Linked DNA regions of Homo sapiens. Changing the gene in region 4 together with the main gene of any one other region gives a genetic interaction. Each region holds a gene or a part of one and is shown on either strand. Other genes may lie near its edges. The genes, in order: MTOR, PREX1, ICMT, NRAS, YKT6 and GOLGA7.

Region 1 (4,639 bases), about 100 Mb from region 4:
TCTCTGAACATAAATTATGAAGATTTCATGGACACTTGTCACTTCCCCAATCAATACCCTTGTGATTTCCTATGCCTGTCTTTACTTTAATCTCTTAATCCCGTCATCTTCATAAGCTGATGAGGATGTATGTTGCCTCAGGACCCTGTGATGATTGCATTAACTGCACAAATTGTTTGTAGAGCATGTGTGTTTGAACAATATGAAATCTGGGCACCTTGAAAAAAGAACAGAATAACAGCAATGTTCAGGGAACGAGAGAGATAACCTTAAACTCTGACCGCCGGTGAGCTGGGCACAACAGAGCCATATTTCTCTTCTTTCAAAAGCAAATGGGAGAAATATCGCTAAATTATTTTTCTCAGCAAGGAACATCCCTGAGAAAGAGAATGCATCCCTGAGGGTAGGCCTCTGAAATGGCTGCTTCGGGGGCGGCCGTCTTTTATGGTGAAAGCTGTAGGGATGAAATAAGCCCCAGTCTCCCATAGCACTCCCAGGCTTATTAGGACGAGGAAATTCCCGCCTAATAAATTTTGGTCAGACTGGTTGTCTGCTCTCAAACCCTGTCTCCTGATAAGATGTTATCAATGACAAAGCGTGCCCAAAACTTCGTTAGCAATATTAATTTTGCCCCGGTCCTGTGATCTTGCCCTGCCTCCACTGCCTTGTGATATTCTATTACCTTGTGAAGCACGTGATCTCTGTGACCCACACCCTATTCGTACACTCCCTCCCCTTTTGAAAATCACTAATAAAAACTTGCTGGTTTTATGGCTCAGGGGGGCATCATGGAACCTGCCAACATGTGATGTCTCCTCTGGACACCCAGCTTTAAAATTTCTCTTTTGTACTCTGTCCCTTTTCTCAGACCGGCTGACACTTAGGGAATATAGAAAAGAACCTATGTGAAATATCGGGGGTGAATTTCCCCCAATATACAAATATTAGTTGGCGGTGGGGGTGCTCATCTGCAGTCCCAGCTAATTGGGAGGCTGAGGCGGGAAGATCACCTGAGCCCAGGGGGCCGAGGCTGCAGTGAGCCATGACTGTGCCACTGCAGTTCAGCCTGGGTGACAGAGCGAGACCCAGTCTCCAACAAAAACAAAAACAAAAAACACCACTCAGATACTACTCCGTTTTAAAACTTCACAGCATCAGGTTCATACTCCTTGCTGCTGAACTGAGGGAGGCCCCGGTCTGGCCCCGGCCCCGTACTGCTTTCCTGCCTCCTTTAGTTCCTATTATTTTCCTGTTACTCCCTTTATTCCCCACTGACCACTGAGCCAGACATGCTGAACTATGAGGTGCAGCCATAAGAAAATGCCAGTTTTGTATATTAAAAATGGTCCACGTACCTGTGATTTCAAATGGTCCAACTGATACTTGCCACTGCTATGGATACCTTGCTTTTACAGCAGTGCCTCACACTTCCTTTTCTGCTGAGAATGCCCCCCCCTTGGTTCATCTGACAGACTCCCACCCCTCTTTAAGACCCATGCCAAATGTCCCCCTTTCTATGGGGCTTTCCAGGCTCACCCGGTGGAATACACGCTCCTACCTGTGGCCCATACATGCCTCTTCTCAGCACTTGGCCGGGGTAAGTTCTGTTCACTTCAGTGGCATGCTGTCTCCACCTGTCTGGCCTGGGAACAGTCTGAGGAAAGGGACCATGTCACGTACACCCTTACGTCCTCTGTCATCCCTACTACAGAGTGTTTACTGAAGGCTGAGTGCTGAAGAGAGTAAATGCTTCCTTTTTGAACTGATCAAAATTATGACTAAAACGCCACTCATATACATATGTTTAAAATTCTGATGTCATTTATTGGCACAAAAATTATTCTGATACAACATGGTGTCTAGACATGGCTACACTTTATACTTTGTGCATTTAGTTGAGTATTTGTTCTGCTCATAATTTCCAATATGTACCAGACCTTCCCTGTGTTCAGCACCTCCATGACAGTATTTCTGTTTTCTGAGCCCTTGCTCTAAACAGAGTATTTTGACCACTGAAAACATCCCAGAACCCTGCTGCAGAAGGCCAGTGAGGGTGGTCCCACTGCACAGTGATCCCCTCTGTGCATCTGCTCAGCCGAGGCTGCCAGCGATCTGAATAAACCTCCCTACTAGCGGTCAGGTCTTGAATTGAAGCGTGTGAGTCGCAGCATCACTGGGTCTGATGGAAGACAGACCTTTTGTACTCATTTTGGCCTATCTTGCAAACATTTCTGCTGCTGTCCACAGACCAGTGAGGTCTTGGGATAGGTGGCAGGGGTGAGGTCAGCATCTTCTGTGTCTTTACAGTCTAGGATCCTAATCCATGTTCTCCACGACCTGAGGCTTCTTGGCTGTGCTGAGTTTGCTGTACCCATGTTGAGAGGAGCAACTAGGTCATTCTTCCATCAGCAAGTACTTATGATGAGTTCTCTTGTGAGTTAAGTCAAAACCCGTATTTCTAAAGTTATGGATCTTCTGTTCCCCAAAATGAATGGCTTGATTTACGTGGTATTACTATGTTTCACTGTCCTGGGAACCAAATCAAGCCTTGTGTTTCTGACAATATATTCTTCAACAGCAGCTAGAAAGTTGGTTCAAACCAACTTTTAATATACAGTAGTTCTTTTCATTTACATTTCAAAATATTTAACAAAGTCAAACTTTCTCACCATGGTTTCAGTTTAGTGGAAGCATTTACTAAAGTACAAAAGCCTCAGAAAAAACGTGATGGGCACATCTGGGCCTCCAGTTACCAGAAAGGGCACCTAAGAAGGCAGAAAGAAAAGGAATATTTTAATAATTTGAGCTTCTTCAAAGGTTTACACAGATAACTTGAAAATGAAAAGGCCAAGGTCTGACAACCCTAGGGTATTCCCTGAGCTCTCCCACAGCTAATTGCATGGGACACACTCATCATTTCCAGTCAAGGCTAATGCCCACCGAGGTCCCGCAAGGACACTTCCCCAGCGCCCGCTCTCTCAAGTTTCTGCCTTCAAGCATGCCTTGGGCAATTAATCAAAGCACACCCCAGAGTGGCCCTTGAGGTTAGACTCCCAGATCATAAATCTGTCTTTTTATCTCCTTCTCTCTGTCACTGCTCTAGCTTTTTCTTTCCTTCGCCCTTCCTGTATCTCTGCACTGGACTGACAGCAAAACCCAAAAGGAACCCCTCACAAACAAACAAGCCTTGCCTATTCTCCTGAACCACTTATCTTAATGTAATTTTAATTTTAGTGTTTGCCTTCCAAGTATGCATCCATATTTCTCAGTTTCTTTTTTTATAACAATGGGCACATGCAGTAAATATGAATTTTTAAAGAGATCTGAGCTCTAACTGCCCTTTACAGATACCTCACCAAATCTCTTTTTGCTACTCTGGCTTTGGGGCCTAGGCTTGGGACCTGATTGCTTATTTTAACAAAGTCACTTTGAGAGCCCCACTCACCAGCCAATATAGCACTGGCAGAGGTTTTCATGGGATGTCGCTTGTTTGATGAGCAGCTCAACTTGCGTTGGAACATCCAAAGTGTCATCATGAGAGAAGTCCCGACCTAGCACAGGAGGAACAAAAACATTTCACTCTCTTCCTGGCAATCGATGCACTTCTTGTTCCCTGTGGGCTTAACTGTCTATGCCAACAGCTTATCGTCAGACATGAAGATGAAGGATACCATCATAGTTGGATTTGAAAAGTTTGGCCAGGTGCGGTGGCTCACGCCTGTAATCCCAGCACTTTAGGAGGCTGAGGCAGGCAGATCACCTGAGGTCAGGAGTTCAACACCAGCCTGGCCAACATGGTGAAACCCTGTCTTTACTAAAAATACAAAATTAGCCGAGTGTGGTGGCACATGCCTGTAGTCCCAGCTACTTGGGAGCCTGAGGCAGGAGAATCACTTGAACCTGGAAGGTGGAGGTTGCAGTGGGCCAAGATCGCACCACTGCACTCCAGCCTGGGTGACAGAGCAAGACCCTGTCTCAAAAAAAAAAAAAAAAAAGAAAAGAAAAAAAGAAAAATTCGGCCGGGTGCGGTGGGTGAATCACTTGAGGTCAGGAGTTTGAGACCAGCCTGCCCAACATGGTGAAACCCCATCTCTACTAAAAACACAAAAAATTAGCTGGGCGTGCACCTGTAATCCCAGCTACTCGGGAGGCTGAGGCAGGAGAATTGTTTGAACCTGGGAGGCAGAGGTTGCAGTGAGCCAAGATGGAGCCACTGAACTCCAGACTGGGCAATAAGAGCAAAACTGTCTCAAACAAACAAAAAAAAGACATGATTAAAAAACACTTCTCTGAATTTGGCTGATTTTGGACCCAAAAGAAATTTATTCACCTCCTGAGTTAAATGAGATTAAACTAACATTAAGTACTGTTATCAGTCATCAGAAAGAAGAATCAGAGACAATGTTTAACTGATGACCTCAAAGACACTCTTTGTCAGCTGCATGGTGCCAAAGCTCGTCACTAACACCACTGGACATGGGGCTGACCACCACTCAGAGAGGAAAGTGTGCTCAGATTTTATGTCCCTTTTAAGTAAACACATGACACACTCACCAGTGAGCTTATCTCGAACCCTGTTAATAATCTGGATAGCTTTCTTATTTAGGGCCTCTGGTTTCACCAAACCGTCTCCAACTGG
Region 2 (4,880 bases), on a different chromosome or scaffold from region 4:
TGAAGGCTGAGAGACTAGTGGGATTTGCTCCAGACCAACGCTAGGGCCAGAAATGACCCCGTGAAACCTCTTCAAGAGGGACTTTTGGCCGGGCATGGTGGCTCACGCCTATAATCCCAGCACTGTGGGAGGCCAAGGCGGGCAGAACACTTGAGGTCAGGAGTTCAATACCAGCCTGGTCAACATGGTGAAACCCTGTCTCTACTAAAAAAATACAAAAAGTAGCCGGGCATGGTGGCACGTGCCTGTAGTCCCAGCTATTCGGGAGGATGAGGCAAGAGAATCGCTTGAACCCGGGAGGCAGAGGTTGAAGTGAGCCAAGATCACGCCACTGCACTCCAGACTGGGCGACAGTACAAGACTCCATCTTAAAAAAAAACGGGGGGATTTTTGATCCTGGCTAAAACACAGATCCCCAGAAAAGGATGTGGGCCACCAAGCTCTCTTCCCAGGTATCTGGGGATGGAACTCTAACAAACTGAGTGGCTACTGCCCTTAACTGGTGCTCACCTCCCCTCTGGGGACGCAATTTATGTCACCTGCAAAACAAGGAGATTCAGACCGAATGACCCACCTGGCTTCTGTTCAAGATCTCCGAAACGCAGGGCAGGAATCAGCTCCGACCTGGCCCCATGTCTGGGGAATGATGCTGTGGGACACAGCACACAGGTTTGAGGGGCAGCCCACCCTATCACCCACCTCCCTCCAGTATTCTAGCCAGCATGCCTGTGTCTGTTGGAAAAAAAGAAAAGCCCCAAAAATCTGGAGAGGTCAGGTTCTCCTGCAGCCAGGCATGACCTGCTTCAAACACTTAAACTCTTGCAAAACCTTTAAGGGAGAGCGGCTGTGAAGCAAATAGGATGTGGGTTTCTTTATTAAAGGGAGTGGCCCCAAGCCCAACAGGTCTTCAGCTCTCTGGCCTGATAAAGGAGTATCTTTCTCTCCAAGAAAGGGGTGCCCTGAAGTCTCAAAAGCCAGAGACACCAACCCCATTCGCGTCTTCTTAAAGTGACAGTTAAATTGCTACCAGGGCAAACACCAGAATAAAAGTAGGTAGGCTTCCAGAAGGTTTGTCTGAAGAATGAGTTGTAGAATCCCCACAGGGTTGTCCTTCTTATAAGGACAACGACCTGTTGATGACTTCATTCTCGTGGCCCAGAACACTGCCCAGGATATACAGCAGATGCTCCATAAATACCTGCACACAGAGAAAAGCAGTCTCATATCTTCATGGTTTTATCTGTACAGAGCTCTCTGTCTGCCATACATTAAAAAAAATGTAACCCATCTAAATCCTGCTGACACTCAGTTTTTACCATCAAAAGATTTTCACTGACTTCCTGATGATGATGAGCCCAACACAAGGTGGCCTGTTCCAGGCTCTCCGGCATCTGAAAACTGAAATAAGGTGGACTTTTTGACTTAATTCTTGCCCACCTGGGCAGCCCAGAGGTCTCACAGGGGCAGTAATTTTGCTCATGAACACAGCCTCATTTTGGTGCAATTCAGGATAGTGGTGAAGAATGTGGGCCATGCAGCCGCATTACCTGGGTCCAAGTGCCAGTTCTGTCAGGCTGTGTGACCTTGGGAAACTGACTTGGCCTCTCTGTGTCTTTGTTTCATTTGTAAAACAGGAAGCATAAGAATACCTGCAACTTTTGAGTTAATGCTTAAGGAACTTATAAACAGGGCTTGCAAGTATATAAATATTAGCAAATTGTTACCATTATTACTGTTGCATTAATCTAATAACCATGTTGAAAATACAATTCTTCCTGTCGGCTTCTTAAAAAATATATTCGCATACATATGCATAATTTTATATGAAAAGGGTATTATAAACAGGATTTTACTTCCTTATCTTCCTGGTTGCCTTTCTGTAAAAGATACACATCCTTCCATCCTTTTCTCCAACCTAATGTCACCTTATACATATAACACACGTGTATATTATGGTTATTGTTTATTTTCCAAAAGAACTGTGTTACATATACCTCTCAGCATCCTACTTTTCATATGAGGACCACGTGAAAATCCCCCCAAGTTACTGGGGAGGTCCCTCTGCCTCAATGACTGTGAAATCAAAGACCTGCCCCCACCCCAACCACCCGTGGCATTTCTCCCTAGTGTGAGACTAGGAGTACAGAATCTTTTAAAACAGAAAAAAAAATAGTGACAACAAAAAACCACAGTTTCTTGTTTGGCAAGCGGAGCTCCAATGAGAAGAAAAACTTTTGTCTCCTCCCTCCAAAAAGCAGAACCACAGAAAGCATTCTGGGAGCTTTCTGCCCACAATCCCTGTTCCTCAGAGACTCCCATCCTGGTCGGTTCCGGGCAGACCCTCTGTGTCTCTATAGCTCTCTGTCCTCAGCCACGGGGAGACCTTCGAGGAGCTGCTGACCAACTCCCACCCACCGGCCTCTCTGCCCACCCACCCAGGCCCTCTCTTCTCTTTCGACCACTGCCCAGCTGACACACCCCATCATGGGAGTTACTGGCACCTGCCCCTGAGGTGCCTCCCCTTGGCAGGTGGGCCCAAGGTCTACTCAGCCTCCTCTAGGGGAGTGGGGGGCAAGCTTCACCACATCCCTGTGACGCAGGTGCTACACTGTGCCCGTTGGACAGATGTGGAAACTGAGGCACAGAGCAAGTCAGTGATCAGCCCAAGGTCACCTACAGTCCAAGTGGAAGAAGCCTGGATTTGAACACCAGCAGCATGACTCCAGAGCCTCACTCAACCCTCGTGCCATGAACAGACCCGGAGCCCAGAGCAAGAACTCGGCAGCCTGCCATTTCTATCCGTCCACAGTTCTTCCCATTCTGTGGAGAAAAGAATGGGAGTCACAGAGGGCAAGTAACAGGAGGAAGCGCAGGCGGAGGTGAAACATCACACAGACCTGGGTTCAAATCCCAGTTCTGCCACCTTAATAAATCATGTGCCAAGCCCTTCTTGGATCAGCCAAAGGCGGTCTATCAAGTGGCTGGGGACATGAGTTGTGGGGTCAGGCAGCCTAGGATCAAATCCTGGCAATGCTGTCCACCTGACCCAGAGCAGCTCACTTAGATTCACTTTGCCTCAGTTTCCTCACCTCTCAATGGGGATAAAAACAGCATCCCCTTCATAAAGAAAATTAAATGAGTTGACACATGCAAAGTGCTTAGAATGGCAAGTGATGAATCAAAGTCAGTTCCTGCACAGCAATGACTGTCATTGTTTTCATCATGACTAACGCTGCCCAGAGCACACGGGGAGTACCCCACATAGCCAGGGCCTCGAAATGATTCGAGCCAAGGTTCTGAGTCAAAACCCCAGGCACTGTTTCCCCCAAGACCGATCCAGCATCTCTGTGAAAGGGCTGTCCTTGCCTTTTCATGATTATTTAATAAACACACGCAAAACACCAAACTCAGAGGACTCCCTGGAGATGAGGGAGGGAGTGCAACCCAGTTCCTGAAGGAGATGGGGAAAGATGGGAAGATTCTCAAGGAACCACAAAGCCCTCGGCCTGGAACCAAACAAAACCACTGGTTCCTGTGGCCGGAGTTTAGGGTGTCAAAAGGAAACTCACTCAGAGCCCCCATCCTCCTCTCAGTGCTGACTTAACTCAGACCTCACTTCCTCCAGGAAGCCCTCTCTGATCACCCCTGCTCTCTGGATGCTGAAGTCCCACAACCCTAATTATCTGTATTATTTAATTTTCCTACAACAACAATAATAACCAATATTTATATACCTTACTGCCAGACACTGTTCTAAGTGCTTTACATCAATTTCTATAACTCACTTATCTTCTTTAAAAACCTATAAAATAGGACCTATTAACATCCCTCTTTTTACAAATAAGGCTCAAACAGGTTAAGGTGTTTGCCCAAGGTCACAAGTCCAAGGATTTAACCTCAAGCAGTCTGGCTCCAGAGCCTTGCACTTGGATTGTTTTTTTTAAACACCCATTTGGCCATCCTCCACTACACCGTCCTCTCCTTGAGGACAGAAGCCACACATGGCCCCTATCACGGGGGTTACTTTCCACGGTTTCCATGGGCCGATGGGACCTTCACACCAAGGACACACGGAGACCAGGGTGGTCCTTTAAGGCCTGCCTCTAACCACATGGAAATAAAAGCAGGGAGGGATTACCGTGCATTCTTCCAAGCCAGGAGACAGCAGGGAAAATCCCTTAGCAAATATAAAGGCTGAGAAGAGAGAGTGGGAAGACAGAAGAGAATCACAACCTGAGGCTGCCAGCCTTGCAACCATGGAAAGCCTTGGTAATTAGCAGTTCCTGAAGCTCTAAGCCCCAGGTTAGTTTTGAAAACGAAAATGCCTTGGGATGTTTAGGGGCCATTCCTGACGGGCCAAGATGAGAGAGGACTCCTGTGGCTCACAAACAACGTATGGCTGGTCAGGTTACACAATCCGTCTGTTTCTGGCACCAGCTTGGGGACACACAAAAGGCCCAGGCAGAAAGGAAGCCCGGATTCCCCGCTCCTTGTTTCACAGGTGGGGAAACTGAGGTCAGGACACGTAGCATGATTGGTCCAAGACACATGTCCAAGTCAGAACCAATTCATCTCAGAACTGACACATCAGATACAAAAAGAAAAATGTGATGAAGTCAGCAAATGTAAAGTGTTAAGGAGATAATGTGAAAGTAGAGAAATCTTTTTTTTTCCTGTTTCTTGAATAATAAGAATGGTTGGCTCCAATCAATTTCCATTATTCCAGCTTCCTCCTACTCTACACGTGGACGATTTAAAACCACAGTTAACTCAAACACAATCTAGATCTGTTCTAAAATGAAACACACCATCTAGGGCAGGGGCGTGGGAGGGAGAGGTATATTTTCTTTCCCATTAATATCAAAATTGGTTTGTATTTC
Region 3 (4,880 bases), about 110 Mb from region 4:
CAAGCAATCCTCCTGCTCTGGTCTCCCAAAGCCACTGTGCCTAGCCAAATAGTAATTTTAAAAAAGAAATATGCGGGTTGGATGCAGTGGCTCACGCCTGTAATCCCAGCACTTTGGGAGGCTGAAGCGGGTGGATCATCTGAGGTCAGGAGTTTGAGAACCGCCTGGCCAACACAGTGAAACCCCTACTAAACCTACTAAAAATACAAAAAATTAGCTGGGCGAGGTAGTGCACAACTGTAATCCCAGCTACTCGCGGGGGCTGAGGCAGGAGACTCACTTGAACCCGGGAGGTGGAGGTTGCAGTGAGCCAAGATCGCACCACTGCACTCCAGCCTGGGCGACAAAGTGAGACTCTGTCTCAAAAAAAAAAAAGAAAGAAAAAGAAATACATGTGGTGGCTCACGCCTGTAATCCCAGCACTTTGAGAGGCCGAGGCGGGTAGATCACTCAACCGCAGGAGTTCGAGGCCAGCCTAGGCAACATGGAAAAACCCCGTCTCTACAAAAATACAAAAATTAGCCAGGGGCTGGGCATGGTGGCTCATGTCTGTAATCCCAACGCTTTGGGAGGCCAAGGCAGGCAGATCACCTGAGGTTGGGAGTTCGAGAACAGCCTGACCAACATGGAGAAACCCCGTCTCTACTAAAAATACAAAATTAGCCGGGTATGGTGGCGCATGCCTGTAATCCCAGCTACTCAGGAGGCTGAGGCAGGAGAATCGCTTGAACCCGGGAGGCAGAGGTTGCAGTGAGCTGAGATCACATGATTGCACTCCAGCCTGGGCAACAAGAGTGAAACTCCATCTCAAAAAAATAAATTAATTAAAAAATACAAAAATTAGCCAGGTGTGATGACACACATCTGTAGTTTCAGCTACTTAGAAGGCTGAGGCAGGAGAATCACTCAAACCCGGGAGGCGGAGGTTGCAATGAGCCGAGATTGTGACACCGCACTCCAGCCTGGGCAGATACTTAGGAGACTAAGGTGGGAGGATCACTTGAGCCCAAGAGGTAGAGGCTGCAGTAAACCATGATCATGCCAATGCACTATAGCCTGGGTGAGAGACCCTGCCTCAAAACAAAACAAAAAACCATACATAAATAAAAAAAATACACACACACACACACACACACACACACACACACACACACATAGAGCAGGTGCAGTGGCTCACACCTATAATCCTTACACTTCTTTTTCTTTTTTTCTTTTTGAGACAGATTCTTGCTGTGTCACCCTGGCTGGAGTGCAGTGGCGTGATCTCAGCTCACTGCAACCTCTGCCTCCCAGGTTCAAGCAAATATTGTGCCTCAGTCTCTCGACTAGCTGGAATTATAAGTAAGAACCACCATGCCTGGCCTAATCCCAGCACTTTAGAAGGCCAAGGTAGGAGGATGGCTTGAGCCCAGGAGTTCAAGACCAGCATGGGCAACAAAGGAGGAACCATCTCTTTTTTTTTTGAGACAGAGTCTCACTCCATCACCCAGGCTGGAGTGCAGTGGCACAATCTCAGCTCACTGCAACCTCCACCTCCCAGGTTCAAGCGGTTCTCAGGTCTCAGCCTCCCGAGTAGCTGAGACTATAGGCATGTGCCACCAGGCCCAACTAATTTTTGTATTTTTAATAGAGATGGGGTTTTGCCATGTTGGCTAGGCTTGTCTCAAACTCCTGATGTCAAGTGACCCACCCACTTCAGCCTCTCAAAGTGCTGGGATTACAGGCAACCGTCCAGGAGAACCACCTCTACAAAAAATTTAAAAATTAGCCGGACGTGGTGGCAACACCTGTAATGTATTCCAGCTACTTGGGAGGCTGAGGTAGGAGGATCACTTGAGCTCAGGAGGTCAAGGCTGCAGTGAGCCATGATCAGAACACTGCACTCCAGGCTGGGCAACACAGCAAGATCCTGTCTTTAAAAAAAAAAAAAAAAAAAAAAGCTGGGCACGGTGGCTCATGCCTATAATCCCAGCACTTTGGGAGGCCGAGGCGGGCAGATCATGAGGTCAGGAGATCAAGACCATCCTGGCTAACACAGTCAAACCTCATCTCTACTAAAAATACAAACAATTAGCCGGGTGTGGTGGCGGGCGCCTGTAGTCCCAGCTACTCAGGAGGCTGAAGCAAGAGAATCGCTTGAACCTGGGAGGCAGAGGTTGCAGTGACCTGAGATCATGCCACTGCACTCCAGCCTGGGCAACAGGGCAACAGAGTGAGACTCCATCTCAAAAAGGAAAAAAAAAAAAAAAAGGCCAGGCACTGTAGCTCAAGCCTGTAATCCCAGCACTTTGAGAGGCCCAGGAAGGCAGACTGCTTGAGCTCAGTAGTTCAAGATGGCTCTGGGCAACTCGAGAAACCCTGTCTCTACAAAAAAAATACGAAAAGTAGTCAGGCATGGTGGTTCGTGCCTACAGTTCCAGCTACTTGGGAGGCAGAGGTTGCAGTGAACCAAGATCGCACCACTGCACTCTGGCCTGGTCAACAGAGCAAGACTAGGTCTCAAAAAAAAAAAAGAAAGAAAGAAAAGAAAAGAAACGAAACAAGGCCTTTTCTTCAGCCTGAGACAGAACAAACCTCCATGGCTCACACAGCTCACTAACACATGGCCTCGGCCCCATTAATACCTATTTCTGATGAAAACTAGCCAAGCTGCCACATGAGTGACAGAGGGCACTCCCTTCCCTAAGCCCCATCTCTGTCCTCACCCCCTCTGGGGTGCTTCAGATCTATTAATAGGTTGAAGGGGCAGAGAAAGGGAGAGGCACAATGGCTCATGCCTATAATGCTAGCACTTTGCGAGGCTGAGGTGGGAGGATCACTTAAGGCCAAGAGTTTGAGACCTGCCCAGGCAACACAGTAAGACCCTGTCTCTACCAAAAAAAAAAAAAGAAAAAAGAAAACAAACAAACAGAGGCAGAAACAGGATGAAGGGATACAGCAGGTAGCTAACAGCACCAAGAATCACCAAGGACTTACGCACCCAGGTTCTGGGCACATAGTGAAAAGCATTAAGGACTACATTAGTTCTCTTGACTTTTATTAAATTATCACTTGAAACGCGCCAAGAAGAACATGTACCTATTATTTAAAGGAGACCAACAACCTCATGAATACACTGAAAACCACTAATTGTATATTTTGAAATGGTGACTTTTATGCTACGTGAATATCACGTTTAAAATGTTACTTAAAAAAAAAAAAAAGAAAAGCAGTGTCATATTTAATATTATACCTGAGTTCCAATACTCCAGTAAAACCACCCGACGTAAGAAGGATGCCGAAACCAAGCGTACACTCCACTGGTCACCAGAGTATGTGTATCTGATTTTTCATTCTGTACCACGTGGTTGAAATTGGAGCCAGCTGTAAACATGGCCGCCTTCCTCAGACATTCTCCGAAGACCACCATCAGCAGCCCTGTGACACTGAGCCAGGTAATCTGCTTCAGTTCTGTGGGAGAGAGACATCAACGACACACGGGGAGTGAAAACACTGGCCTGAGCTCCCCTTCGCACTGCTTAAAATTAACCTATTTTCCCGAAGACAGAAACAGAAAATGTGCTGCTGGGCAATCAGCATTTGTCATCACATTAAAATTTCATAAGAAAACACATTCCCCTAAGTTATGCTGTTCATCAATTTACTTTAAAACACCAATAAGCACAATGAAAGCATCATGGTAAAGAGATGCTCTCCTGCTACAGCTGATGGGCTCTCTGGTTCACGACCCCCGGCCACATGCTCAGTCCTTCATCTGGGGACAAGTATAGCTAAGAGAAGCAAAAAAGGGTCCAAGGTTTCCACCCTGAATCCCAGGAGCCACATGTATTTCATTTCATTGGCTGTGAGACATTCAATTTCAGAGTGCATTCCACATACGGAGGCTTTTATTTTTTGAGACGGAGTTTCACTCTCATTGCCCAGGCTGGAGTGCAATGGCACAATCTCAGCTCACTGCAACCTCCATCTCCTGGGTTCAAGCAATTCTCCTGCCTCAGCCTCCCAAGTAGCTAGAATTACAGGCATGCACTACCAGGCCCGGCTAATTTTGTATTTTTCGTAGAGACGGGGTTTTACCATGCTGGTCAGGCTGGTTTCAAACTCCTGACCTCATGTGATCCACCCACCTCGGCCTCCCAAAGTGCTGGGATTAAAGGCGTGAGCCACTGCACCCGACCTTGTTAGTAAACTCTTTTTTTTTTTTTGAGATGGGAGTCTCGCTCTGTCACCCAGGCTGGAGTGCAGTGGCGCGATCACGGCTCACTGCAACCTCCGCCTCCCGGATTCAAGCAGTTCTCCTGCCTCAGCCTCCCGAGTAGCTGGGATTACAGGCATGTGCCACTACGCCTGGCTTTTTTGTATTTTTAGTAGAGACGGGGTTTCACCATATTGGCCAGGCTGGTCTCGAACTCCTGACCTTGTGATCCACCCGCCTCGACCTCCCAAAGTGCTGGGATTACAGGCGTTCGCCACCGTGCCCGGCCAGTAAACTCTTACATGAAACGTCTAAATATCATCTGATTATAAAATTAGAATCACAACTACTCAAGGTTGGGGCTTCAAATTAGATGGTGCACTATGTGATGCAAACTTTAAAGCAAAAGGTCAGCACGTCCTCGAGTCAATATCCAGAGGCAGAATTCATGAGCGGAGCTCATCCTTTATAAATAGCTTAGTGAGGATAGAGGTCTGCGGAAAATCGCTTGGGGGAGATTAGACCTGAAAGGTGAATCAATGTCACTGTCCTCAGCCTGAATGGGAGCCACCCTTTTCCCCTCCAGAGGGGGACATAAGGCACACGAACCTGGCCAAAAGATATTTTCAAGTGTGAACTCTAACCAAGAAGAAAGAGCAGCTACTGTATACTCCAGGCTGTGATT
Region 4 (4,880 bases):
GCAAAGGAAAAGGGTAATGTGAGAAACACGGAACAAAACTACATTAAACTAAAGACTCCATTCAGGAGGCTTAAGCCATAAACGGGCTGGTGTTGACAGAGAAATAACTAATGTTTATAAATATTTTTAGTCAAGGATCTTCCCAAGAAATATTTGTGGATGTTAATGCAGGAGTAAACATGCCATAACAGAATATTAGTAAGTTCATTTTGGGTTTAAACAAGCGTTAAGAAAAAGAACACTACTAAAAATGCCTAACAACAGGCTGGGCGTGGTGGCTCACACCTGTAATCCCAGCACTCTGGGAGGCCCAGGTGGGAGGATTGCTTGAGGCCAGGAGTTCGAGACCAGCCTGGGCAACATGGTAAAACCCTGTCTCTACTAAAAGTACAAAAATTAGCCGGGCATGATGATGTGCCCGTAGTCCCAGCTACTTGGGAGGCTGAGGCAGGAGAATCACTTGAACCCAAGAGACAGAGGCTGCAGTGAGCTGAGATCACACCACTGCACTCCAGCTTAGAAGATAGAGTGAGACTCTGCCTAAAAAAAAATAAAAAATAAAAAAATAAAAATGAAAAAAATGCATAACAACAAAGAATATGAATATGGATCACATCTCTACCAGAGTTAATCAACTGATGCAAACTCTTGCACAAATGCTGAAAGCTGTACCATACCTGTCTGGTCTTGGCTGAGGTTTCAATGAATGGAATCCCGTAACTCTTGGCCAGTTCGTGGGCTTGTTTTGTATCAACTGTCCTTGTTGGCAAATCACACTTGTTTCCCACTAGCACCATAGGTACATCATCCGAGTCTTTTACTCGCTTAATCTGCTCCCTAAAAACGGGAATATATTATCAGAACATAAGAAAAACAAGATTAGGCTGGGTACAGTGGCTCATGCCTGCAATCTCAGCACTTTGGGAGGCTGAGGAGGGCAGACTGCTTGAACCCAGGAGTTTGAGATTAGCCTGGGCAACATGGCAAAACCCGGTCTCTACAAAAAAATACAAAGATTAGGCTGGGTGCAGTGGCTCATGCCTGTATTCCCAGCACTTTGGGAGGTTGAGGTGGGCAGATCACAAGGTCAGGAGTTGAAGACCAGCCTGGCCAATATGGTGAAACCCCATCTCTACTAAAAATACAAAAATTAGCCAGGTGTGGTGGCAGGCGCCTATAGTCCCAGCTACTCGGGAAGCTGAGGCAGGAGAATCGCTTGAACCTGGGAGGCGAAGATTGCAGTGAGCCAAGATCACGCCACTACACTCTAGCCTGGGCGACAGAGTGAGACTCCATCCCCCCCAACCCCCCCCAAAAAATATATATAAAATATATAAAAATAAATATATATTATATATATTATATATAAATATATATTTATATATAATTTATAATATATAAATATATATAATTTACACATATAAATATATATTTATATATATTTATAAATAAAAAATATATATACAATATATATTATAGCTGGGTGTGGTGGCGCATGCCTGTAGTCCCAGCTAATTGGGAGACTGAGGTGGGAGGATCACCTGGGTCCAGAAAGGTCAAGGCTGCAGTGAGCCATAATTGTTCCACTGCACTCCAGCCTGGGCAACAGGAAAAAAGAAAGAAAAGAAAGGGAAGAAAGAAAAGAAAAGAGAAAAGAAAAAGAGAAAGAAAGTGAGAGCGAGAGAAAGAGAGAGCGAGAGAGAGACAAGATTTCAGGAAGGAATAAATGGCTAGGGCAAAAAAGAAACTAGCAAATTTTATGTAGCCCTATTAACTTGTAGTATTTTTGCTTTTTTCTACCACTTAGAGAAGACATTGTATACTAAGGAGACTGCTTTAGACTTGTTGCAGCAGCCATCAGGAAGCCATAAGTACAAGCTCACCTTCTAATGGGAGTGGATGGGTATTTTATCCTGATACATGACCTAGTGAGGCTCCTGGATTCTCCAAAGAGCTTGGCTCTGGATTTAACTGGCAACTAGAAATCACCCTTTAGATTAAGGTCTAAAGTATAAAAAGTGAAGCTCACTGCTGCTAAATAACTAGGTGTGACAGTATTTAATGGAAGGCAGTCTATCACTTTTCAAGATGGGTGGTGCTCAAACATTTTCTTCAAATAAATTGTAGATGAAGCTGGGCATGGTGACTCCCGCCTATAGTCTTAGCACTCTAGGAGATTGAGGTGGGAGGATCACTTGACCTAGGAGTCCGAGACCAGCCTGGGCAACATGGTGAAACCTTGCTTCTACAAAAAATACAAAAATTAGCTGGGCATGGTGGCACATGTGCCTGTGGTTCCAGCTACTCAGGAAGCTGAGGTGGGAGGATCCCTTGATCCCTGAGAGGTTGAACCCTGAGAGTGTCATGCCACCGCACTCTGGCTTGGGCAACAGAGGGAGACTCCATCTCTAAAAAACTAAAACAGGCCGGGCACGGTGGTTCACACCTGTAATCCCAGCCCTCTGGGAGGCCGAGGCGGGTGGATCACCTGAGGTCAGGAGTTTGAAACCAGCCCGGCCAACATGGTGAAACCCCAAGTCTACTAAAAATACAAAAAAAATTAGTCAGGCATGGTGGTGGACGCCTGTAATTCCAGCTACTCGGGAAGCTGAGGCAGGAGAATCTCTCGAACCCGGGAGGCGGAGGTTGCAGTGAGCCGCGATCGCACCACCGTACTCCATCCAGCTTGGGCAACCAGAGCAAAACTCCGTCTCAAAAAAAAAAAAACAAACAAACAAAAAAAACAAACCTAAAACAAAACATTGTATCTGGAAGCCCAAGCGATAAAATAGAAAACATAAGAACTGCTCTTAGTAAAGGGAGGCTGAAGCATCTAGAACTCCTGACAGCACCCCTTTCAATGACATGTAAGGCACACCACACAGCACACCTGGGAAACAATTGCTTTAGATTGTCTTGACCAACACAATCCAACAGTACTTTATGTGATGATGGAAATGGTCTATATCTGTACTGTTCAACATGGTACCTACTAGTGGCTATTGAGCATTTGGTAGTCAAGGAACTAATTTTTAAATTTTATTTAATCTTAATTAACTGTAAATAACCACATACTGCACAGTACTGTTTTAGTCTCTACCCCTGGATTACCCACAAAGTCATGTATCTGAACTACATTCCACTGGCTATTTGCAAAACTGTGCTTGATGGTAATAGCCTACATTAAGGGATAAGACAGCCTAAAGTACCTGGACCATGTCACTGTCAGGTTACTACTGATTTTTACATTAAACAAGCCTCTTTGAGGATCCATGGGAAAATTTCCTTCTAGTCCGAGCAACTTAACGGCTTTCAGCATACAGATACTGAATCTTTCAGCTGGCTACTTTCCTTTTCACAACAGTGACCAAATTTGTAGTCCACCTTTAGAAAGCCACTGGAACTTCATGCACAATCACAGAATATGCTCACTCCTAAATTTGTTTATTTTACCCTTATTTTTTTGGTCTCACTTAAGCCTATTTTTCATTAATCTTATCTTGCTCTACTATATGCATTTTCATAAGATGTTTTAAATACTCTTTGGTTTGAGCTAAGGCATATAGAAAAATGAATAAATTTCTTGTAAGAAAGAAGAAAAATGACTTCTAGAAATTCAAAAAACATTTATTAGATGCATGCCAAGTGTGGGCATTTTATTAAGTACTGCTATTACTTTTAGACAAAAAAAAAATGGGAAGTACAACAGGTTAGGAAAAGAACACTTGAATTCAGTGTTGGACCAATCTGCTTTTGAGAGCAGACATCTTCACATGGATAGAAAATAAGCCAAGACTCAAGCCTTTAGGCAGAACACTTAAGTAGCATTTACTGTGTGCCAGGCACTATTCTGAGTGATTTGCGTATTTATTAAAACTGTAATCTTCACAACTCTATGAGGTAGGTATTATTATTTCCATATTATAGGTTAGGAAAGCCACATAGCCCCTGAGTCACGTCGCTAATAAACAGAGCTAGGTTTCAATCCAGGCAGAGTTCTCATTCTTAACCATTATATTATTCTGTTTAAGAACACTGTGCTAAGAAAAAGGAGCTTTGGGTTTTTGGTCCTGGCTCTGCTACTAATAACAATCCTGACTCCAAAACCTAACAAACGACATTCTGAACTCTGTTTCTGATTCTGCAAAATAAGAATATTGTACTAGAATTTTTATGGTCCAATCTAGCTTTGAAACTTTATGGTTCTATGGACAAAGTCTATCTTTATGTTCCCTTGCTTTGTTTTCATCTTTATGGACTTCCTATTTGCTTACTCCTATCATTTTATTTTTTATTTTTTTTGGAGACAGAATCTTGCTCTGTTGATTAGGCTGGAGTGCAGCAGTGCAGTGGAGTGAGCATGCCTCGACCTCCTGAGCTCACGTGATCCTCCCACCTCTGCCTCCCGAGTAGCTGCCACCATGTGTGACTAATTTTTTTATTTTTATTTTTGTAGAGACAGGGTCTTGCTCTGTTGCCCAGGCTGGTCTCCAACTCCTGGGCTGAAAGTGATCCTCCCGCCTTGGCCTCCCAAAGCACTGACATTCCAGGTGTGAGCCACTGTGCCTGGCCTATCTTTTCCATTACATACTGAAAGATGTTTCTTGGAGATGTTTTCCTCTCTGAAATTCCTTCGTGATCTCTAATTACAACAACTCTGGTTCCAAGTCATTCCCAGTAGCAAGCTTCACTTATGTATTATCAAACTTTATAGTAACAGTATATTATGTAAAATAAATTCCAGTATTAACTTTCAGTAATTACCCTAGATTCTCAATGTCAAACAACCTAAAACCAACTCTTCCCATAATTAAAAAGCTCTATCTTCCCTAGTGTGGTAACCTCATTTCCCCATAAAGATTCAGAACACAAAGATCATC
Region 5 (4,880 bases), on a different chromosome or scaffold from region 4:
GGAATAAGATTCAACAGTAAATCTCTGGTGATCAGAACTTGAACCAGCCTTCCTGGACTGGGAGTAGGAGTTCAGAAATCAGCCAGAGCAGCAGAGGGCAGAGCAGAGGCAGGAGTGGAACAAGGCCTCGGCCCGCATCGACTCCAACGGCGCCCAAGTGAACTGCCTCCAACCACCTGGGCCTGAGGCGCTCACCTTAGGCTCTTGCCGCACAAGGAATCATCCACCATGATTCAACAGTCTAAGAAAGACCCGTTCATAGTGGAGAGTGCCAGAAGCAGCAAGCTGCGACTGCTCTCTAGAGAGAACACCCAGGAGGCAGCAGGTGCTGGGTACTCACAGTTTTATAGAAGGCTTTAGACTGTGTTCCCAGCACCTCGGATTTGGACACCAAGTCATCTAGCTTCTCACCTCGCTCTAACAGAGACTCCATGGTGTTGTGCTGGACAAAAAAGAAAAGAGAATCCAGCTCTGTTCAGTACGTGCCCTGACATGAGCCCCTCATATTTCAGTCATGGGGGAAAGTGCCTTACCTGGGTTCCTCTCCAACACACACAAACTTCACCTCTAGGTGTCGAGACTCGGTCCAAGAATAGTTACTGTCCAAGTGGATGGAACAGAACCTGGTGACATTCCCGTGAAATCTAGAAGATCTAACTGGGATGTAGCAGACTTCCCAAAAAGCTGTCCCCAGCACAGGCTTAGATAACCAGCACTCCAGGAAAACTCATATATATATATACACACACATTTATATATACATTTGTGTGTGTGTGTGTGTGTGCACGCACATGTGCGTGTGCATGGAGCTTTGGAAAAAAGAGTAGCTGGGCACTATATGATTGTACTGGGTTGGAGAGTGACCCACACCGCACCCCCCAACCCCAACCGCATCCCAGAAATTAACATCCCCAGAATCTCTGAATGTGACCATATTTAGAAATAGGGTCTTGGCAGATGTAACTAGTTAGGAAGAGGTAATACTGGATTAGGGTGGCATCTAATTCCATGACTGATGTCCTGGTAAGAAACGGAAACACACACACAGAAGGTCACGTGACGGCAGAGGCAGAGCCTGAAGTGATGCACCTCTAATCCAAGGAATGCCAAGGATGGCCAGCAGCCACCAGAGGCTGGAGAGAGGCCTGGGACAGACACTCAGAGCCCCAAAAGACACCAGCCAGGCCCACAGAGCTATCTGTTAAAAGCAAATATTTGAGGGTTTCTGTTGACAGCAGCCACAGGAAACAAAAGGCGGTGGGAAATGGCTATTGAGCACTTGATGTGAGGCAAGTCCAAACTGAGCAGCGCTCTGAGTACAGACACACCAGATTTCAGATGCAAACTCACACATGCTTCATTAGTAAGTTTTATACTGAAAAAAAAACAAGTTTTATACCGATTACATGTTGGAAAAATTGTATTTGGATATACTGCGTTAAGTAAAATATATAATTAAATTAAATTCTACCTATTTTCCTTTTATCATTTTAAAATATGGCTCCTAGAAAATTCTAAGTTACACACATGCCCCAAATATATACCAGACAGCACTATGACAGAACATGTCCTGCCTTCTAAATGGGCTATGTCCTAAATGTCATCACTACAAACTCTGACTTAGGAAATGAAAACACTGACCCCATGGGAAGGGGTCTAGAGATGGAGACCTCACAAGAGCCAGCAGCTCTGCTGCCAGGGCCCTCAGGAAGCAGCAGCTCGCTTCTCTCCTCAGATGGCCACTGCTGCAGCAGCTAGATGCACACATGAAGCGCCATAGAACAAGGAGCCAGCAAGAATGTCCTTCATCCCTACACACAGCTGAGCGACTCAAATTTTTAACACAGAAAGTTAACTGATTCAGATATGCACACCAATCATCTAGATTTTACAACTGCAGCTAGATGAGGCTGGGTGAATAGGACTCATCCACTCCCCACCGTGGGGAGAGGAGAAACAGCGGGTGTCCCAGGTGTCATGGTACTCAGACTAGGACTTGAGCAACAGAAAGAGATGGCTTGAGGAGAAAACGGAGAAATGCCACCTAGGTGGTAAGAAAGCTCACAAGGTTTCAAAAGACACAGATACCATGAGACTTTCACATCTATCGTTCATTCCAAAGCCACGTTATTTGGAGTGCAGTCAGCACACCTGTGTTTGAAGCCCCTGGGATGCTTTTTATAAAATGCAGGTTCCCAGGCTCCATCGCAGGCCAACAACTCCAACCCCAGGAGACGCTGATGTACACACTAAAGCTATGCCTGTGTAAATGGTAAAGCTTTGTATGTGGGTTTCAATCCACTCCAGGTATCTATCAACTGCTGAGCATGGTATAAACTAGGCACTGTATCATGAGCAGGATGGAAAGATGTCCCAGTGCTCATACGCTGGTCAGGGAGACATGTAAACAAGCAGTGACAAAACTGTGACATCTGGTCAGAAAGGCCCAACCTTCAGGCGCCTGTGTGTGAGCTGGGCAAGAAAGGGTATAAGAGAGAACAGGGCCCAGTCAGGAGACTGTGAGTTAGTTTGCACTTTATCCTGGGGCGGATCTGAGAGCTGCTGAAGGGTTCTAAGTTGTGCAGATCAATGACTACTCTCTGGTGGACAGACTGGAGGTGAGCAGGAGGCAAGGGGACCACTTAGAGGCAAAGGCTGTAAGAGAAAAACCTGAGAAAAACAGATAGCTGCTTACATTCCACTTGTATGCAAAAATTTAAAAAAAAAGAGTTGAAGCAACAGTTACAAATCAGGAGATTTCAGCTCAAAATGCAGGGTTCTGGCTCTTTTCAAAGGGGCCTATGTGACAACCCTGGGCCCATATTCCAGAAGCTGCCCTGTGGTCAGTGCACGGTGCTTCAATCTGTTCACCTTCAATGCAAACGCTGCAAGGGGAGGCACCTGTGGGGTGTGGAGGCACCCGAAACCCTAACAAAGGCACCAGGGTGGGAATCCAGGTCTTCAGAAGCCAAACCCTAGGAACCCAGTAAATGGTCAGACAGGCAGTAGCCATGAGGAAGGGAGACTTGAGGGTTCCACTGGTTCCCAGCTTGGTCCCCTAGAAACAATGGGTGCCATTAACCAAGAGAAGGGTATAGGAAAGACAGTCTGATGCCCGGGGTGGGGGAAGGGGTGGGCAATCCCACTTGCTGGAGAGTGCCGTGGTTACTATTATATTAAAACGAGGATGGATCTGTGCATGCCTGGCCAGTGGAAATCGCACCCCCGCCTCAGTTCTTGGGCTTGCTCTCCATCTTCCTGCTTACCAGAATGATTTTGGTCTCATCTAGTTCGGCCTGCACTTTAGTCATGGGATCAGCTTCTCGTGGGTTCTAGGAAAGAGTGAAAAATAATAAAGTCAGGACTGGAGTGGCTACCTGCAAACAAAACCTAAAACTGAGGAAGCTGGACAAACTTTCACAGGTTAAAAACCACAGCCTGGGCCGGGCACAGTGGCTCACGCCTGTAATCCCAGCATTTTGGGAGGATGAGGCGGGTGGATCACCAGAGATCAAGAGTTCGAGACCAGCCTGACCAACATGGTGAAACCGTCTCTACTAAAAATACAAAAATTAGCCAGGCGTGGTGGCACATGCCTGTAATCCCAGCTACTCGGGAGGCTGAGGCAGGAGAATCGCTTGAACCCAGGAGGTGCAGGTTGAGTGAGCCGAGATTGCGCCACTGCACTCCAGCCTGGGAAACAGAGTGAGACTCCAACTCAAAAAACAAAAAACAAAAAAAAAAACCCACAGCCTGTTTAACATGTAACAGAAACCCAAAGCCTGCCTAGAGCTTGGGTTCCCCGGTCTGAACGTAGATTCTCTGTTTTCCAAACAGTAAGGCTTGAGAGAGGACACCAGCATCAGAAGCTGTCAGAAGTAATTAGACCAGAACTATCAGGGCAGTTGGCTTTTTCAGTTTCACATGGATTCTGGGCCACATGGTGTCTGCTGAAGCTTCCTTTAACCCTACCTGGTATCTACTGAGGTGACCATCCAGGGCTGGGTAATGGATTGTAGCAGGGGATCCTACTGGCCAGTCTATCCTGTCGACTTGCTTGGAGAATTCATCTAGTACCTGCAAGACAAAGGAGACTCAACAAGCCTCCCACTGTGCACTCACCAGTGGTCTCAATGACAGGGCTTCACCCCTGAGCACCTCACCCTGAATGAGGCTCCTTGGCCTTCACAGCCCAGGAAGGAGGAATGAGGGGGACATATAATGGCAACAGAGAAAATCTAGGCTAAAGTTCTTTCCAAATTTTTATCATTAAAACATATCCTAAATATTCTGAGAATCAAAAGTATGCCCAGCCCGAGATGAACCTCACTTGGGGAGTAATAAAGGTATTTGAATTTTAAACTACAGATTTCCAGAAAAAAGGGGCACTGGTCCTCTAATTTTCCAAAGCAATTTTTTAAAAAAGAGAATTAGGTCCCCTAGATTTAAGAAACCACCAGATTCCATGTGTTTGGAGGTATTTTGGTGCTCTGGGGTATAGGATGAAGCCTCTGACTTCAAAGAGTTAATATTAGTAATTAGCACCGTACGCAAAAAAATTTAAAGAATGCTTAGGTGCTAAGCTCTGTGGTGCAACTGACTGACATCAAGGTAGAGGGATGCAGCAACTGCAGGAGGCAATGGGGAGAGTGAAGGCATTCAAGAGGGAGACTCCTTGAGCAGAAGCACAGGGGGCGAGAACACAAGGCACAGCTGTCTCCGAGGGTCCCATCCCAGAGAATAGATGCTATGACTCAGTGGCCTAGACCCAGCTCACATGAGGGACAGCACCGGGGAGGAAACCCATACAGGGATGCCAAATTGTCTCTTGGGTTGCAGGGAAGGGGGCTGAAAAATGTGTTGACTTTGGACACATCATT
Region 6 (4,880 bases), on a different chromosome or scaffold from region 4:
TTCTTCATGATTTTAAGAGATTTTTGTGAAAACAAATGTAGCATTACCTTCTCATAATGAGTTTCCATGCATAGGAAGATGGTATATGCTGTTAAACAAGCCAAACAACCTTCGAGATATGACTGGCCGCCGAGCTTCTCTGCTTCTGCATAAAGGTTATTTAGAGTTCGAACTGTTTCTTCAAACTGCTGCCTATCAATCTGTAGAGAAGAAAATATTTAAAAATTAAGTTTTGGAAAAAAAAAATCAACTAATGCATGCTATCATTAATTTATCTTGTTTTCTCACCATTCTTAGTTGACAATTTTTTTGGTGACTAAATCTGGGCCTAAGTTACCAAAACTGCTTAATTTGTTTAATTTTATCCCTCTTATAAATACTGGATAGCTTCAAGGCTCAATAAGGTACTTCTTTATTCTTTCTACTAAATTTCAAGTAACTTTAGGCTCTATTCCTCTTTCCATTCATTTAGTTTCACACTTACTGAGCGCCTACTATCAGATACTATGAAAAATCTCAAGATAAAGCACTGTCTCAATCCTTAAGAGTTTAATTATGCAAGCAGAACAGGCAATGTAAACATAAAAATGCAGTAAGCTGGCCAGGTGCGGTGGCTCATGCCTGTAATCCCAGCACTTTGGGAGGCTGAGGTGGGCGGATCACGAGGTCAGGAGATGGAGACCATCCTGGCTAACATGGTGAAACCCCGTCTCTACTAAAAATACCAAAAAAAATTAGCCGGGCATGGTGGCGGGTGCCTATAGCCCCAGCTACTGGGGAGGCTGAGGCAGGAGAATGGCGTGAACCCGGGAGGTGGAGCTTGCAGTGAGCCGAGACTGCGCCACTGCACTCCAGCCTGGGTGACAGAGCGAGACTCCGTCTCAAAAAAAAAAAAAAAAAAAAAGCAATAAACTGACAGGGTACTATCATATAGGCAAATATAAAGCCTAGTGGGGACACAAAAGCAAGGAGAAATTCCCTTTATCTGGGAAGGGCAGGTAATCTTAAATTGAGTAACTAAAGACTGGAATTTACTAGGCAAAAAAAAAAAAAATGGCATTTTAGCAGAAGGATCAAAAGGCGTAGGTTCTATATTCTGTTTACTCAGCCTATCTCTTTTGAAGCAATTATCTTGTTACTAAATAAGGTAAAATTTGTTAAGGTAAAATCTCAAGCTAATAAACAATTTTTCACATTAAGTCATTCTTATTACCTCTTTCTATTTGGTGACACCATTATCTTAAATTTACACTAATACTACCACAGGTTGAGCATCCCTGATCTTAAATTCTGAAGTCAGAAAGGCTCCAAAATCTGAAACTTTTGAGCACTGACATGATACCACAAGTGGGAAATTCCAAACCCGACCTCATGTGAGGGGTCACAGTCAAAATGCAGGCGCACAACACATAGTTTATTCAGTGTCCCCAAGAGAAAAAGACCCTTCCAGCCCCCATCAGCTGCCATGTATCTTTTCCATGCACAGCCAGATTCTCCCATGCAAGCGTGCTCACAAAGGGTGATAAGATGGTTCAGTGTACACACACTTTGTCTCATAAAGTCATTTAAAATATTGTATAAAATTACCTTCAGGTTATATGTATAAGGTGGATATAAAACATAATGAATTTCGTGTTTAGACTTGGATCCCATTCCCAAGATATCTCATTAGTATAAACAAATATTTCAAAATCTAAAAAAACCCCAAAAACTGAAATACTTCTGGTTCCACATATTTCACATAAGAAAGAACCTGTACTGTCATCCATTGTTTCACTCAATCATCTGCTTTTACTTTATTCTTCCAATATTACTTTACTGTCTTCTAATAGTACTTTGTATAACAGATTTCAAATTTTGCTACTTCATCCCAGGACTTTCAAGGCCCATTAGGAGAGCAATCATCCAATACTGCCATTCTTATCTGTCTGCACTCTAGGCCTTCTCTCGCATAAGGATTCCCTTATTTCTAAAATTAATAACTACTTACGTATGAATTCTCTCTTTTATGAAGTCCTTATTTAAAAGACTTTTTTGTTTGGCTTTTTTTTTTTCTCCTTTCCTGTCTCTGTGAACCTATTAAATCTTTCTTTATAATAGAAACCGACTCAGAAAAAAAAAAATCAGGCTGGCGTGGTGGCTCATTCCTGTAATCCCAGCACTTGGGAAGTTGAGCTGGGTGGATCACTTGAGCTCAGGAGTTTGAGACCAGCCTGGGCAACATGGTGAAACTCTGTCTCTACTAAAAATGCAAAAATTAGCCAGGCGTGGTGGTGCATGCCTATAGTCCTAGCTACTCAGGAGGCTGAGGTGGGAGGATTGCTGGAGCCTGGGAAGTGGAGGTTGCAGTGAACTGAGATCTCACCACTGCACTCCAGTCTGGGTGACAGAGTGAGACCCTGTCTCAAAAAAAGAAAGAAAGAAAAAAAACCCTCAACATACAGTATGAGCCCTACTATTCACTATTCCCAAGAATGTAATCTTTTTTTTTTTTTTTTTTTTTTTTGAGACAGAGTCTCACTCTGTCACCCTGGCTGGAGTGCAGTGGCGCAATCTTGGCTCACTGTAACCTCTGGTCCCAGGATCAAGTGATTCTCGTGTCTCAGCCTCCCGAGTAGCTGGGATTACAGGCGTGCACCACCATTCCCTACTAATTTTTGTATTTTTAGTAGAGACGAGGTTTTGCCATGTTGCCAGGCTGGTCTCAGGCTCCTAGCCTCATGTGATCCACCCCCCTGGCCTCCCAAAGAGCCACCTGCACCTGGCCTCAAGAACATAATCTTTTAAAGTGTAAAACAATTCATGACCATCCTTAAGCTATGACAACTCTTTAAGTTAGAAGCAGTTGTAGTCATTGTTTTGTCCGTTGTGTGGAAAATGTGAGGAGTCAATGGGCTAGTGGCATGCATGAATTTAATGCAAACTTTAAAGTGGTGTTGGCTCTACCCATTTTTCAAAAGGAGTTACTTTAAATTTCCAGGAATATTAGAGATTTGGACAAAGGCTAGGTGGGTCAAGACGGCCTTTAAACGCAGGGGCAGTGTTTCTTCACTGAGCTACCCCTTGTAGATGTGGTGTCAAGGCTGGTCATCTGGGAAACTGTGAGTTCTCATTCACGAAAACAGACTGAGGAGAGCTCAGCAAACAAAAATGGTAAGCTGTTACGTTCACCTAATTATGCCTACGTTAATGCCTTCAGTTTGTCCACCGATAAGTCTACAAAAGTCTAAATAATTCCAATCACATTTGATGTGCCTATGTTATAAGTCATTGAATTATTTATATTTCTTTACAATACAATTCAAAACCATGGGATTCAACCCAGAAACATCTTATTTCTTTCATATCAGAATTACTGTTTATCCCGGAAACCCTAATTATTATTATTTTTTAAGTTTAGTGACAGAGTATCGCTATGTTGCCCAGACTGGTCTTGAACTCCTGGCCCCAAGGGATACTCCTACCTCAACCCCCAGAGCAGCTGGGATTACTTGGGTGCAAACCACCATGCCCAGCCAGAAACACTTAATTCTTATGCGTTATTCCGAGATTACAATGCCCTATAGGTTAGAGGTAAATCATACGTCAGTTAAACAAACAAACAAAAAAAGGTTAATAAAAAAAGAAAAAGAAAGGATAAATGGTTAAAGAAAAGTAAATGCCAACAAGTTTTTGAAAGGTTATTTTAAAAAAGGGAAATAAAGGGTAAAAATCACAGAAGGCATCAATAAAGGCAAACGACAAACTTCACAAGAAAGGGCTCAAGAGAACAAATGTTGGCATTTGTATCTTACTACCTTTAGGCTATGAATAACAGTGGCCAGTGTTCTCCCTTAGGTTCCTGGACACTGATACAGGAGCTCTATCAAAATTTAGATATATGAGAAGTCACAGCCAAATAAAATTTGGACCCACAAACATCAAAAATCAGAATGGAAAGAGAAATCAGGCTTATTTTCCCAGAATTACTGTGAACTACACAGTAGAAAGCATGGTGAAGCATGCAGTGATCACGTATCAAGGGTGGCAGGTCAAAGGTAATTACTAACCAGATGGGGAGACATATTTTTAAAGGGAAAAAATGCCTCAATTACAGTTCACTCATTCTTCTACCCAGACCAAGGGTAACTAAGATATCTGTATTTTAAGGCTAATGAGAATAAAGTTTCCTTTAAGGAATTGTTCTGGCAACAAATCGCTTAAGCATCAAAGTATTACATTCTAAAAGGCAGCAGAGAAAATGAACTTGTTAACAGACAGAACCTATCCTACTCCCAAATTAAAGGGCACAAATGTGTGTGTATTTTTAAAAAATGCTTTAAAATAATACAAAACACTTGCATATTAGTCACTTTCTCTATTATGTTGCCAAGTGTGATGTTCTCACAAAAGGAAAATCAGCTCCAATAGCAGAGCAATCAGTAAAATTTCTAGGGTAAGTAGTAGAGAAACAGAAACCTTTCAATTTTTCATCAAAGCAAGGAAAGTTTAAACCTGTAATTTAAATTTAATCTCAACACACATACACAGACAATCAAAGCTTTTCTAGTGGTTTAAAGCATAAGCTAGTGTTTTAACCCAAACATTTAAAAAGAAAAAAGAAATTCAAAGGCACAATTGAAGAGTGCCATGTAACATTCCATATAGTACTCAGTACCACAAGCAGTTCTGGGCTATACAGAGTCAAAGAGGTAAAAGGACTCCAGAATTTAGAAACATCAATTTCCTGACAAGAATCAGTGGAGCACAGTAACTACATTGTGCTTTTGCACTTAGATTACAAAATAAAGGCTCTGCCACACACAGAGTGGAAGGCTAATGTCTGATTCTGTGTATACACATTTAGCTCAAATATATGAGGTGTAAGTGTTGCTTTAAAA

What was found.
Region 1: changes in NRAS (region 4) and MTOR together harm fitness more than expected from each alone (negative genetic interaction), as found in Homo sapiens cells (one study listed by BioGRID).
Region 2: changes in NRAS (region 4) and PREX1 are lethal when combined (synthetic lethality), as found in Homo sapiens cells (one large-scale study listed by BioGRID).
Region 3: changes in NRAS (region 4) and ICMT are lethal when combined (synthetic lethality), as found in Homo sapiens cells (one large-scale study listed by BioGRID).
Region 5: changes in NRAS (region 4) and YKT6 together harm fitness more than expected from each alone (negative genetic interaction), as found in Homo sapiens cells (one study listed by BioGRID).
Region 6: changes in NRAS (region 4) and GOLGA7 are lethal when combined (synthetic lethality), as found in Homo sapiens cells (one large-scale study listed by BioGRID).

Annotation. Positions count from the first base shown.
Region 1 is NC_000001.11:11,104,736-11,109,374, forward strand, and holds the end of MTOR (serine/threonine-protein kinase mTOR), read right to left. Parts: intron 4,636-4,639; coding exon 4,555-4,635; intron 3,552-4,554; coding exon 3,446-3,551; intron 2,766-3,445; coding exon 2,750-2,765; 3' UTR 1,800-2,749; downstream 1-1,799. UniProt on the Homo sapiens protein: Serine/threonine protein kinase which is a central regulator of cellular metabolism, growth and survival in response to hormones, growth factors, nutrients, energy and stress signals.
Region 2 is NC_000020.11:48,820,832-48,825,711, forward strand, and holds part of PREX1 (phosphatidylinositol 3,4,5-trisphosphate-dependent Rac exchanger 1 protein), read right to left. Parts: intron 814-4,880; exon of another isoform or gene 575-813; intron 1-574.
Region 3 is NC_000001.11:6,228,670-6,233,549, forward strand, and holds part of ICMT (protein-S-isoprenylcysteine O-methyltransferase), read right to left. Parts: coding exon 4,805-4,880; intron 3,451-4,804; coding exon 3,233-3,450; intron 1-3,232. UniProt on the Homo sapiens protein: Catalyzes the post-translational methylation of isoprenylated C-terminal cysteine residues.
Region 4 is NC_000001.11:114,708,892-114,713,771, forward strand, and holds part of NRAS (GTPase NRas), read right to left. Parts: intron 838-4,880; coding exon 678-837; intron 1-677. UniProt on the Homo sapiens protein: Ras proteins bind GDP/GTP and possess intrinsic GTPase activity.
Region 5 is NC_000007.14:44,206,585-44,211,464, reverse strand, and holds part of YKT6 (synaptobrevin homolog YKT6), read right to left. Parts: intron 4,078-4,880; coding exon 3,973-4,077; intron 3,333-3,972; coding exon 3,267-3,332; intron 443-3,266; coding exon 341-442; intron 1-340. UniProt on the Homo sapiens protein: Vesicular soluble NSF attachment protein receptor (v-SNARE) mediating vesicle docking and fusion to a specific acceptor cellular compartment. Functions in endoplasmic reticulum to Golgi transport; as part of a SNARE complex composed of GOSR1, GOSR2 and STX5.
Region 6 is NC_000008.11:41,492,829-41,497,708, reverse strand, and holds part of GOLGA7 (golgin subfamily A member 7), read right to left. Parts: intron 201-4,880; coding exon 48-200; intron 1-47. UniProt on the Homo sapiens protein: May be involved in protein transport from Golgi to cell surface. The ZDHHC9-GOLGA7 complex is a palmitoyltransferase specific for HRAS and NRAS.